Linked DNA regions of Homo sapiens. The protein of the gene in region 1 interacts with the protein of each later gene in a pairwise test. Each region holds a gene or a part of one and is shown in the gene's direction. Other genes may lie near its edges.

Region 1 (5,064 bases):
AGTTTAGCAAGGATGTCTGCATTGCTCATGCAAATGAACTAAGCGTTCATTGGAATGACACCATCACCACCCAAATGAAAAGAACTGGCTGGAATATTCATCAGCCTACTAATGTCATCTCCCAACCCACTCTCCAAACTCCATCCCAAAAAAGCATCCAGTTCAGAATTGCCCACTGTTGGCAAAGAAAGAATGTCACTAATTTATTTACAGGTGAGTATTAACACTTTCTGCCAATGTGTATTTTAAGCAATTACATTTAGCAATTACAATTAGATTCTTGGCATCCTCAAGGGTTCCATCATCTTCAATCTGTCCTAAGCCTCAGTTTCCCCATCTCTAAAATGAGGATAATAGTACCTACATCATAAGGTGGTTCTGAGTATTAAGTAAGATGATCCATGTAAAGCACTTAGCACAATGCCTGGCACACAAAAACACTCAGTAAATATTAGCTATTATTTTGCATAGATTTATTTACCTGGTTTGGAATTTTGAGGATCCACCTCAAAAGCTGATCTTTGTAATTTTCCTGAAGCAGGGCTCAGAACAGCCCACTTGATAAGAGACAGAGTATGTGAGTCTTATCAAAGGAGTGAACCCAGCTGGTCACTCTGCGTGGTATCCACAGCTCAACCTTTGTTGTTTTCTTCTTCCCATCACCTATAAGGCAACTCCTATGAAGATTTTTGTGAGGGGTTTTTTAACTTTAAATCTTTGTGGAAAAAAAAAGACCCTAACCAAAAAAAAAACTGATACTGCCAGAAGTAGAAAAAAGAGAAAATGAAAACATCCAGAAAACTAATGACTTTGTATTCCTTAATTTGGTGATTTACCAAAGTGTCAAGACATGACTCCCACACCAATGACAACCACTTACATTTCCCCTAGAATGGCAGATTTTTTAACGTACTGGGTTTCCTAAAGCAATTCTTATTTTATATATTCTAATTTATGTACATGAATGTGTCACTTAGACCTGTCACTAGGGATGGTTTAGAAAATAAACTTACACTGCACATGCCTCAGTCCACTTCAAAACTACTGGCAAATGCCTGTAGTCCCAGCTACTCAGAAGGCTAAGATGGGAGGATTGCTTGAGCCCAAGAGGTCGAGGCTGCAATGTGCTATGATGGCACCACTGCACTCCAGTCTGGGTGACAAAGTGAGACCCCATCTCTAAAAATAAAAATAAATAAATAAAAGACGCGAGTTCCTTGTGAATATCAAAAGTCTAATCTGCTGTTATAAATATGAGGAACAAAGCAAAGGGAAGAAATAGGAAAAAAGAAAGACTTCTCTATTTTCTCATCTCCCTAACATTCCTTCTATCTCTAAAATTCCAGACTTTTCTACATTTTCCTCTTCCATGGTACCCGCCCCCCAACCTCCACCCCAACACTGACCTCCTTCTATATTGGCCCTTCCTCCTCCTTACAGGGAGCAGATAGCAGGGACTTACAGATGAACCAGGCCCTGCGATTTTTGGAAAATGAGCACCAGCAACTGCAGGCCAAGATTGAATGCCTGCAAGGGGACAGAGACCTGTGCAGCTTGGATACCCAGGACCTACAAGGTACTCTTCTCCTTGGAGGCCTTGAGTGCATGGCAGCCATGGCCAAGTGAGCTAAGAAAAAAGAAACTGAATTAAGAGAAAGGCTTCAGCCTTTTATTTGTTTGCTTGATTGGTTGATTGGCTTTATAATCTCATTTTACCTTGAGGGAGAGGCAGGACTGTTTTAATCATCCAAAATTGAAAATTAATTTCACTGTAGTAGATAGAGTATCTTGTTGTCTGAGCTCTCTTTTTTAGCCCATCCCTCTGGGCCAGATCACAGCTGCTCCCACATCAGTCACATATGTCAAGGCCACAGTCCTAATTTGAAAGGGAAAGGTCAGTTGAAACACAAGGCATAGAGAAAGTCTCTCAGTCACATCCTCTGTGTCCGCTGATAGAGAGGACTAGATAGTGTGTAAACACAAGCCTCAATGCAACCCAACATTGTTGATGCACAAAAACCTGAGGTACTTGGCTTCTGGTTTACCTCTTCAGAACTGGGACACGAAGATAGAGCAACTTCCAATAGACACACGTTAAAGACCATGACAAGACAGCATCTATTACTAATTTCCATCCTAAGTACTGAGTTCATTAAGTCTTGGGTTCCTTTATTTTGGCTTGCATTATTGCATTTTCAGATCAACTAAAAAGGTCAGAGGCAGAGAAACTCACCCTGGTGACCAGAGTACAGCAGTTGCAGGGTAAGTTCGCTTTCCAGATTCTGAAAGTCCACAGGGTTTTCCTGGGGTCCTGGCCCACAAAAGGCACCCAGAGTAGGGACTAAGGGCCCAGTCTTTGGCATATGCTCTAACTCTGTGCACTTTCAGACCCTCTTCTTGTAAAGTGAGGTCATTTACATAGCTCTCCATAAATTATGTGTTAGCCTCTGTTCTTTTTTTTCTACTGTTCTCCTTCCATGCCAATGACACCACTTACATTTCCCCTAGAACTGCAGATTTTTTTTAAATACTGGGTTTCCTAAAGCAGTTCTTATTTTATATATTCTAATTTATGTACATGAATGTGTCACATAGACCTGTCATTAGAGATGGTTTAGAAAATAAGCTTACACTATACGTGCCTCAATCCACTTCAAAACTACATATTGGGCCCAAAGAGGAAAAGGGACTTCTCAGAAGAAAAGCAGTTTCTGAAAAGCTGGAGAACCTGACTCAATTAATACAGCTGCTGGTTGCCCACCACTTTAACCTCTGACACCTGATAGAGAAGCTTCATGAAAGCAGCAATGATTATTAAGAGAGCAAAGCAACCACAGGGAAAAGGGAAAATCTTCAAGCAAAGACTTGAAGATAGAGACATGGTAGGGGGAGATATAAGGATGCTATATTCATAGCAAAGTACCACAGACTGGGTGCCTTGAAGAACAGAAATGTATTGTCTCACAGTTCTGGAGACTAGAAATCCAAGATGTCAGCAGGGTTGTTTCCTTCTGAGGGCGTTTAGGGAAAGATCTATCCCAGGGCTCTTTCCTTGGCTTTGTAGATGGCCGTCTTCTCTCTGTGTCTCTTCACATTGTCTTTCCCATGAACATATCTGTGTCCATATTTCCCCTTCTTATAAGGACACCAGTGATATTAGATTGGGGCCCACCTGAATGACCCCATTTTAACTTGATTATCTTTTAAAGAATCTATCTCCAAATAAGGTCATTATTTAAGGTACTGAGGGTTAGGACTTCAACATATATATTCTGGGGGACAAAATTCAACACACAGCAGATGGGAACATATTTAATAACCAAGGTTCTAAGCAAAGTTCTGAAAAGAAAACTTTTTGTAGTAAATATGCTAGCATAGACAAGTTCCTTGTGTTTTCCAACAGGTTTGCTTCAAAATCAATCCTTACAGCTTCAAGAACAGGAGAAACTCTTAACAAAGAAAGGTCAGCAAATTTATTACCACAAATTCTAAGATATTGCTCTTCTCTTACCTGCCTAGAGGCAGCGGGATGGACTACATGACCTCCTGGAGTCCCAGCCAGTTCTGGGAGTCTGTTAAGTCCGGGATGTGTGGGAGCTTTTTAAGGACTGATCATTGGCTCTGAGGACACTTCAACTAGTTAGCCTTCTATCTTGAGGTATATAAACTGTGAAAAAGGGTTTCTATTCTCTCTGAAAGCACATGTCTGTGTTGAACATTTCAATAAATTTATTTTGAACTCAGGATTTCATGTCAATTTTTACACACTTGATTTTCCAAATCACATCCAACTCCCCAGCCCCAAACCACATAGCAGTCCAGAGTCAACTCACTGTTAGCCCTAGAGAGTCTACTGTCCATGTTTCCTGAGAATTCACTGTGTATACAGAGGGGCAATAGCTCCTCACCTGTCCACTACACACGACCTTTTGTTTTCTCTTCACAATCATTGGGCATAATATAATAGATAAGGCAGAAATTTTTATGCTCACAGAGTATGGATAAGAACATGAAAGTCTATGGTGACACAAACTAACAACACAGCTATAACAACAATCCAAAACTTCTGACTCCTAGTCCATGCTCTTTTCACCAAGACTAAGACTGCAGGGTGGCTAAAAAACCATCTTTAACCATATGAAGATAAATTTTAGGATATGACTGCCATCTTCACAACTTTCAAATGAGGACATCAGGGAAAAGGGATTGTATTAAAGCATTTACCAAACTTATTTGACAAACTAGGAAGAATGTGACATACAACCAATGAAATTCAATTAAGAAGTATTCACTAAAACTATCTAGCACTAGATAAGACTGGGGATACAAAGAAAAGATCCCAATCTTGCCCTCAAGGAGCTCAGATTCCAGCTGTCTGTCCAAGCTTAGCAGGGGCCTACTGGAAGTTAACCTTTATGTCAGAGAATGCCATCAGTCTAGCCAAGAGCACGCCCTCCCAAGTTCCCTCCCCTCTCCCCACTCCTAGTGGTTTCACCCTCAGGGCCCTTCCTCAGAGGTGTGGGCCTCACTGTCACCAAGAATCTGGCTGCTTTTTTAGATCAGGCTTTGCCCGTGTGGAGTCCAAAGTCCTTCCCTAACGAAGTGGAGCCTGAGGGTACAGGGAAGGAGAAAGACTGGGATCTCAGAGACCAGCTGCAAAAGAAGACTTTGCAGCTCCAGGCCAAGGAAAAGGAGGTGAGAGGGTGACCTGAGATAGTGAGGGCTCATTTGCGAAATAGCAGAGAAACCTGGGAGGCAGTCAAAAAGCAGGGATTTCAAAGTTTAAGTTGTGAGTGGATAACCACAGACATTCATTTGCCTACATAAAGTGTCTGTGCTTTTGGGCTGACTTGTCAATCTTTTCCCTTCCTTATTTATACCAACTCCTATTCAAGGTTTTATTAAATGATTACCTTTTAGAAAGTCGACCAAAACTCAAACACATTTAATAAAAATATTAACTTCTCAATATGTCGTCCCACATTGAGTATCTTAAGTCTTTATATGTCTCTTAAAGAGTAAAACTCTTCCTTTGTACATACTCACAAACATACACATCCCCAG
Region 2 (4,700 bases), on another chromosome or scaffold:
ATTACACCTGTTGTGTTTCCTGTAGCATATTTATATCATTTTTCATGGGAATTTTTTTAAAATTGATAATCAGCTTGATTTTTTGTATAATGTGTCCCTTTTAAATTTGCTCATGAATTTTAAGTGTGTTTTGATATATTGAGTTTTATATTATGATTTGAGTATTTCTCCCTTGTTATCTTAATGTTAAAATTTTGCTTTCAAAGCATATTTGAAATGATATTGAAGGTTGTTGCTTAAACTATGACTGTTACAACAAAATATTTAGATAATAGTCATTCAATTATGGCAGAGTTTAATTGGTCAGTAGTATGTATAGAAAGGAAAACGCATTTTAAATAATTGGAACTGTTAATATTAACATGAAAAGCTGTAATAATGCACATGATATAGTTGAGAAAACTAAGTGAAGCTCAACCTGAGTTTAGTTTGAAATTGAAATGGCAAATCTGATCAGAAATTAAAGCTCTGTGGTCAAGATTACTTGCTTCATTTTAGAGTGTCATGGTAACTAGAATGGGACATTAAAATAAAAGTCATAGTCAAAGCTTTAAAGCTGGAAGACAGGCTGGGCGCGGTGGCTCACGCCTGTAATCCCAGCACTTTGGGAGGCCGAGGCAGGTGGATCACTTGAGGTCAGGAGTCAAGACCAGCCTGGCCAACATGGTGAAAGCCCATCTCTACTAAAAACAGAAAAATTAGCCGGGCGTGGTGGCGGGCGCCTGTAATCCCAGCTACTTGGGAGACCGAGACAGGAGAATTGCTTGAACCTAGGAGGTGGAGGTTGCAGTGAACCGAGATCGCACCACTGCACTCCAGCCTGGGCGACAGAGCAAGACTGTGTCTCTAAATAAATAAATAAATAAAGCTGGAAGACATTCTGAAGACCACGTGGATTAACCTTTTATAGAAAGGAAACTGACATTGTTGGTGGAAGAATTTTTTCCTAGACCATTGCTGTTACTAAAGGAATCTGAACAATTAAAGCTTCATTCTAGTGAACTGATATAGTATATAGCTGACTGTAAACCATTTACATTTCAATGTTTGTACTAGTTTTTATCAGGGACTAGGATGCCTAGTACTTCTTTAGAAAGCAAAAGGACTTGGTGACAACCTATTAACATTTAAAAAATACTATATGACTACTTTGAGGTCCTTGAGGTCCATGGTAGAGGTTTCCCCTCATGAATGCAAAAATCTGATATTTAACTCCATTATTTAATCAAAATTTGTCCTATTTCTTATTTAACATGTAAACTATAGTTATAATTGTACTGAAGTGATAAGAGATTTAGACAGACAAAGCTTTTGTGCCCTAGCTTCCACCCCAGAATAATATATCTAGTGCACATTTTATTTGTGGACAGTTAATACACCACAGTTCCAACACATTTGTTTAACACTGCTTAGTAACAGGATTTTTTGAGTAGAAGTGGGAAAATAAAAATTAATTATATTACTGAATATTGTAACTGTTAAGTGCTTAAATTTTCCCCACAATATTGTCTTGTACTGTATGATTTTTCAGCATTTAAGAAGCGGTTTTGTTCTTTATAGCTGAACCAATAACGTTTCCATCTGGAGGAGGCAAGTCATTTATTATGGGTTCTGATGATGTTTTGTTAAGTGTACTGGGCCTTGGAGACCTTGCAGACTTGACGGTAACAAATGATGCAGACTATAGTTATGATGTAAGTGCAGTTTTATTTTTAATTTTTTAATGATTTAATAGAAGGCTCCTTATTTTTTGGAATCACTTATAAAACAGAATTAATATCAAGGTGCATGGAAAAGATAAGTTTGTGTCAATGTGTTGATTTGAAGTGACATGTTTTTCTTTTATAACTACTCTCTTTGTGGTATTTAAATTTTTTTTTTAGGTATTTTGGTGGATTAACTAGAAGTTTGAGATGATTAATATATTGGTCAGTAAATACATCTTGAGTAGTCAACTCTCAATTATCTCAAATTAAGCCATATTTTGGTGTTAACAAGAAAAAAAATAACCTGAATCATATATTTGCCTTCAGAGTACTTCTTAAAAAGCATGTTTTATTTTTGAACTTTTATTTTCTTAAGGAAATATTTTAAAGTTTCTGAACATTTTAAAGTTAGCTTGCATCATTTCCTGAATACTTAACTCCTTCATTAGAGGATTGGGGAGTGGATGGAAGGGTTGGGGAGTGGGGAGTCCAGTGTTAGAGGTGAAACTTGTCTTGGATTTAATTTTTTCTAGTCATTAATATTTCAATTGAGAGTTAACTATACTTGTTAGATCTTTATGTTAATTGCAGTTTTTCAGCAATTTTTTTTTCTTTTTATAATGAGTTTCTTTTTTCCACGTTTTATACTTAACATTAGCATGCTTAGAGACAGCCTTTGGTGGGCTGGATTATTCTCATTAATATATTTTTTTAAGTATATAAGTGACTAAATTCCAGTAAACTTTTGACTGCTTTAGAAGTGGTTTCACAGCCTATCTTTACAGATGGAGAAATGTGAAGGTAAAAAGATAAACCTCTGTCAATATCAAGAATTATGAAAATGGGATAAAAATATTCTTAAAGGGTCTTTAGTTCAGACTTTCAGAAAGTACCTTAACTTGCTGCCTTTAATAATTTCACATGCTAATACGTTTTCTAAATGACAACTTTACTGTTAATACTGTACCGTTGGATATTTGTAATAACTTATGTAATTATTTTTCATGTAAAGTATTGCAGCAATGGTAGTTATTTTGTTCTCATCTGACATTTAATGGGAGCTTTGGGTTTAGCTTAATAGGTAAAAACAGATTAAGGAACTCTTCATTTGACCTAGGCTATTTGTAAGGCGAATGAAATTATTCTGAGTTATTATTAAATGATAAAGTTTTTTTAGAAAGTTTTAAAGGTACATTAAATTTCCACTGGACATTTTAGCCAACAGTTTTAAATATATGTGTTAAACACACCAAAAAGAAACGAACAAACACTCCACATGCCTTCCAGTTTACTACTTTTACCACTAAATATTGTGCTCTTTCCTTTTAGTTGCCTGCTAATAAAGATGCCTTTCGAAAGACATGGAATCCCAAGTATACACTACGTAGCCATTTTGATGGAGTACGGGCATTAGCTTTTCATCCTGTAGAACCTGTGCTGGTTACTGCTTCTGAGGACCATACCCTGAAACTTTGGAACCTGCAAAAAACAGTTCCTGCCAAAAAGCAAGTATTTTAGTGTTAGCCTGGTGTATTTCTTCCAATTTTGCTAATATAAGTAATTATTCCTCATTATTGTTGCATGTCTTTAATGCACACATTTGATCTAATGACTATTTAATATCAACCAGTGATTCATAGTTATTTAATTGCCTTCTCTTCCCCTACCCTTTTTCCCCCTCTTTTAGGAGTGCCTCTTTAGATGTAGAGCCTATCTACACATTTAGGGCCCACATGTAAGTTTTACTGAATTGGTATTTAATTAACATCATCATTATTGTTAAATATTATTTATCGGTCCTCAAACCTTGTAATTTTCTCAATGTTTTGTATTAGAAAAGATGTATTACTTGAATAATAGCTATTTAATAATTGTATTGGTGAGACTATGAATATAATAGTACCATTCAGGCCAGATGCAGTAGTTCATGCCTGTAATCTGAGGATTTTCGGAGGCTGAGGCGGGCAGATCACTTGAGGTCAGGAGTTCGAGACCAGCCTGGCCAACATGGTGAAACTCCGTCTCTACCACAAAATACAAAAATTAGCTGGGCATGTTGGCGTGCGCTTGTAGTCTCAGCAACTCAGTAGGCTGAGGCAGGAGAATCGCTCGAACCTGGGAGGTGGAGGTTTTACTGAGCAGAGATCACCACTGCATTCCAGTCTGGGCTGGTGACAGAGTGAGACCCTGTCTCCAAAAAAAAAAAAAAAAAAAAAGTACCAGTCAGGTGTACATGTTCTCTTAAAACAGTTTTTAGATATTACATAAATTCAGAGGTTGGGGGAATGGAGATTTGAGTTTCTTCTTAGAATTTATCAGTAATTTGTTTTTCCTCTCTTCCTACAATAGCGGCCCTGTTCTGTCATTAGCTATTAGTTCTAATGGAGAACAGTGTTTTAGTGGTGGTATTGATGCAACCATCCAGTGGTGGAATATGCCGAGTCCCAGTGTAGATCCATATGATACATATGGTAAGTAAAATGATCAAAATGTATTTTTTTTAAGTGAATGGAGCTGACAAAAGTAAATACCTCAAATATGATTACAAGGTTATTTAAACCTATATTAGTCACCTCATTTAGTTCTTCCATTTGCTAATAAATTGCTTTATTAAAGAGAAAAATTAGGAAATGTCATGCCATGGGTATTTAAGCCTATGAATTGATACTTTCTCTGTTGTTTAAAAAACTATATTAATTAAAATGTTAATTTAGGTAGTAGTTACAAAAAGAAGGAGGAAACAAAATGTAATCTAAGTAACAAAATTTTGAACTTAAGAAATAGTTTATATATTTTAAAAATATTAAGCAAAAGACAATGGAACCAACATCAGGGGTATAAATCATTAAAACTTTTTGGAGCCAAAAATTTTTTTTGTTATTCTTAGCTCATATCTACAAAAACATTCTTAATTTCAAAATGGAAGAAAAAAAAAAAGAAAGGAAACCTCCTTTGACTTGCAAATGTAGCTTTTAGAAATCTGTTCTACAGAAA

What was found. The genes of interacting proteins can lie anywhere in the genome.
Region 2: the proteins of TRAF3IP3 (region 1) and STRN3 interact in binary tests that used the Homo sapiens proteins (3 or more experiments, as listed by UniProt).

What each region holds. Positions count from the first base shown.
Region 1 is NC_000001.11:209,775,912-209,780,975, forward strand, and holds part of TRAF3IP3 (TRAF3-interacting JNK-activating modulator), read left to right. Parts: coding exon of another isoform or gene 1-213; intron 214-1,440; coding exon 1,441-1,576; intron 1,577-2,199; coding exon 2,200-2,262; intron 2,263-3,296; exon of another isoform or gene 3,297-3,403; coding exon 3,404-3,463; coding exon of another isoform or gene 3,464-3,492; exon of another isoform or gene 3,493-3,519; coding exon of another isoform or gene 3,520-3,542; exon of another isoform or gene 3,543-4,558; coding exon 4,559-4,695; exon of another isoform or gene 4,696-5,064. UniProt on the Homo sapiens protein: Adapter protein that plays essential roles in both innate and adaptive immunity. Plays a crucial role in the regulation of thymocyte development.
Region 2 is NC_000014.9:30,910,518-30,915,217, reverse strand, and holds part of STRN3 (striatin-3), read left to right. Parts: intron 1-1,560; coding exon 1,561-1,694; intron 1,695-3,035; coding exon 3,036-3,211; intron 3,212-3,393; coding exon 3,394-3,441; intron 3,442-4,055; coding exon 4,056-4,177; intron 4,178-4,700. UniProt on the Homo sapiens protein: Calmodulin-binding scaffolding protein which is the center of the striatin-interacting phosphatase and kinase (STRIPAK) complexes.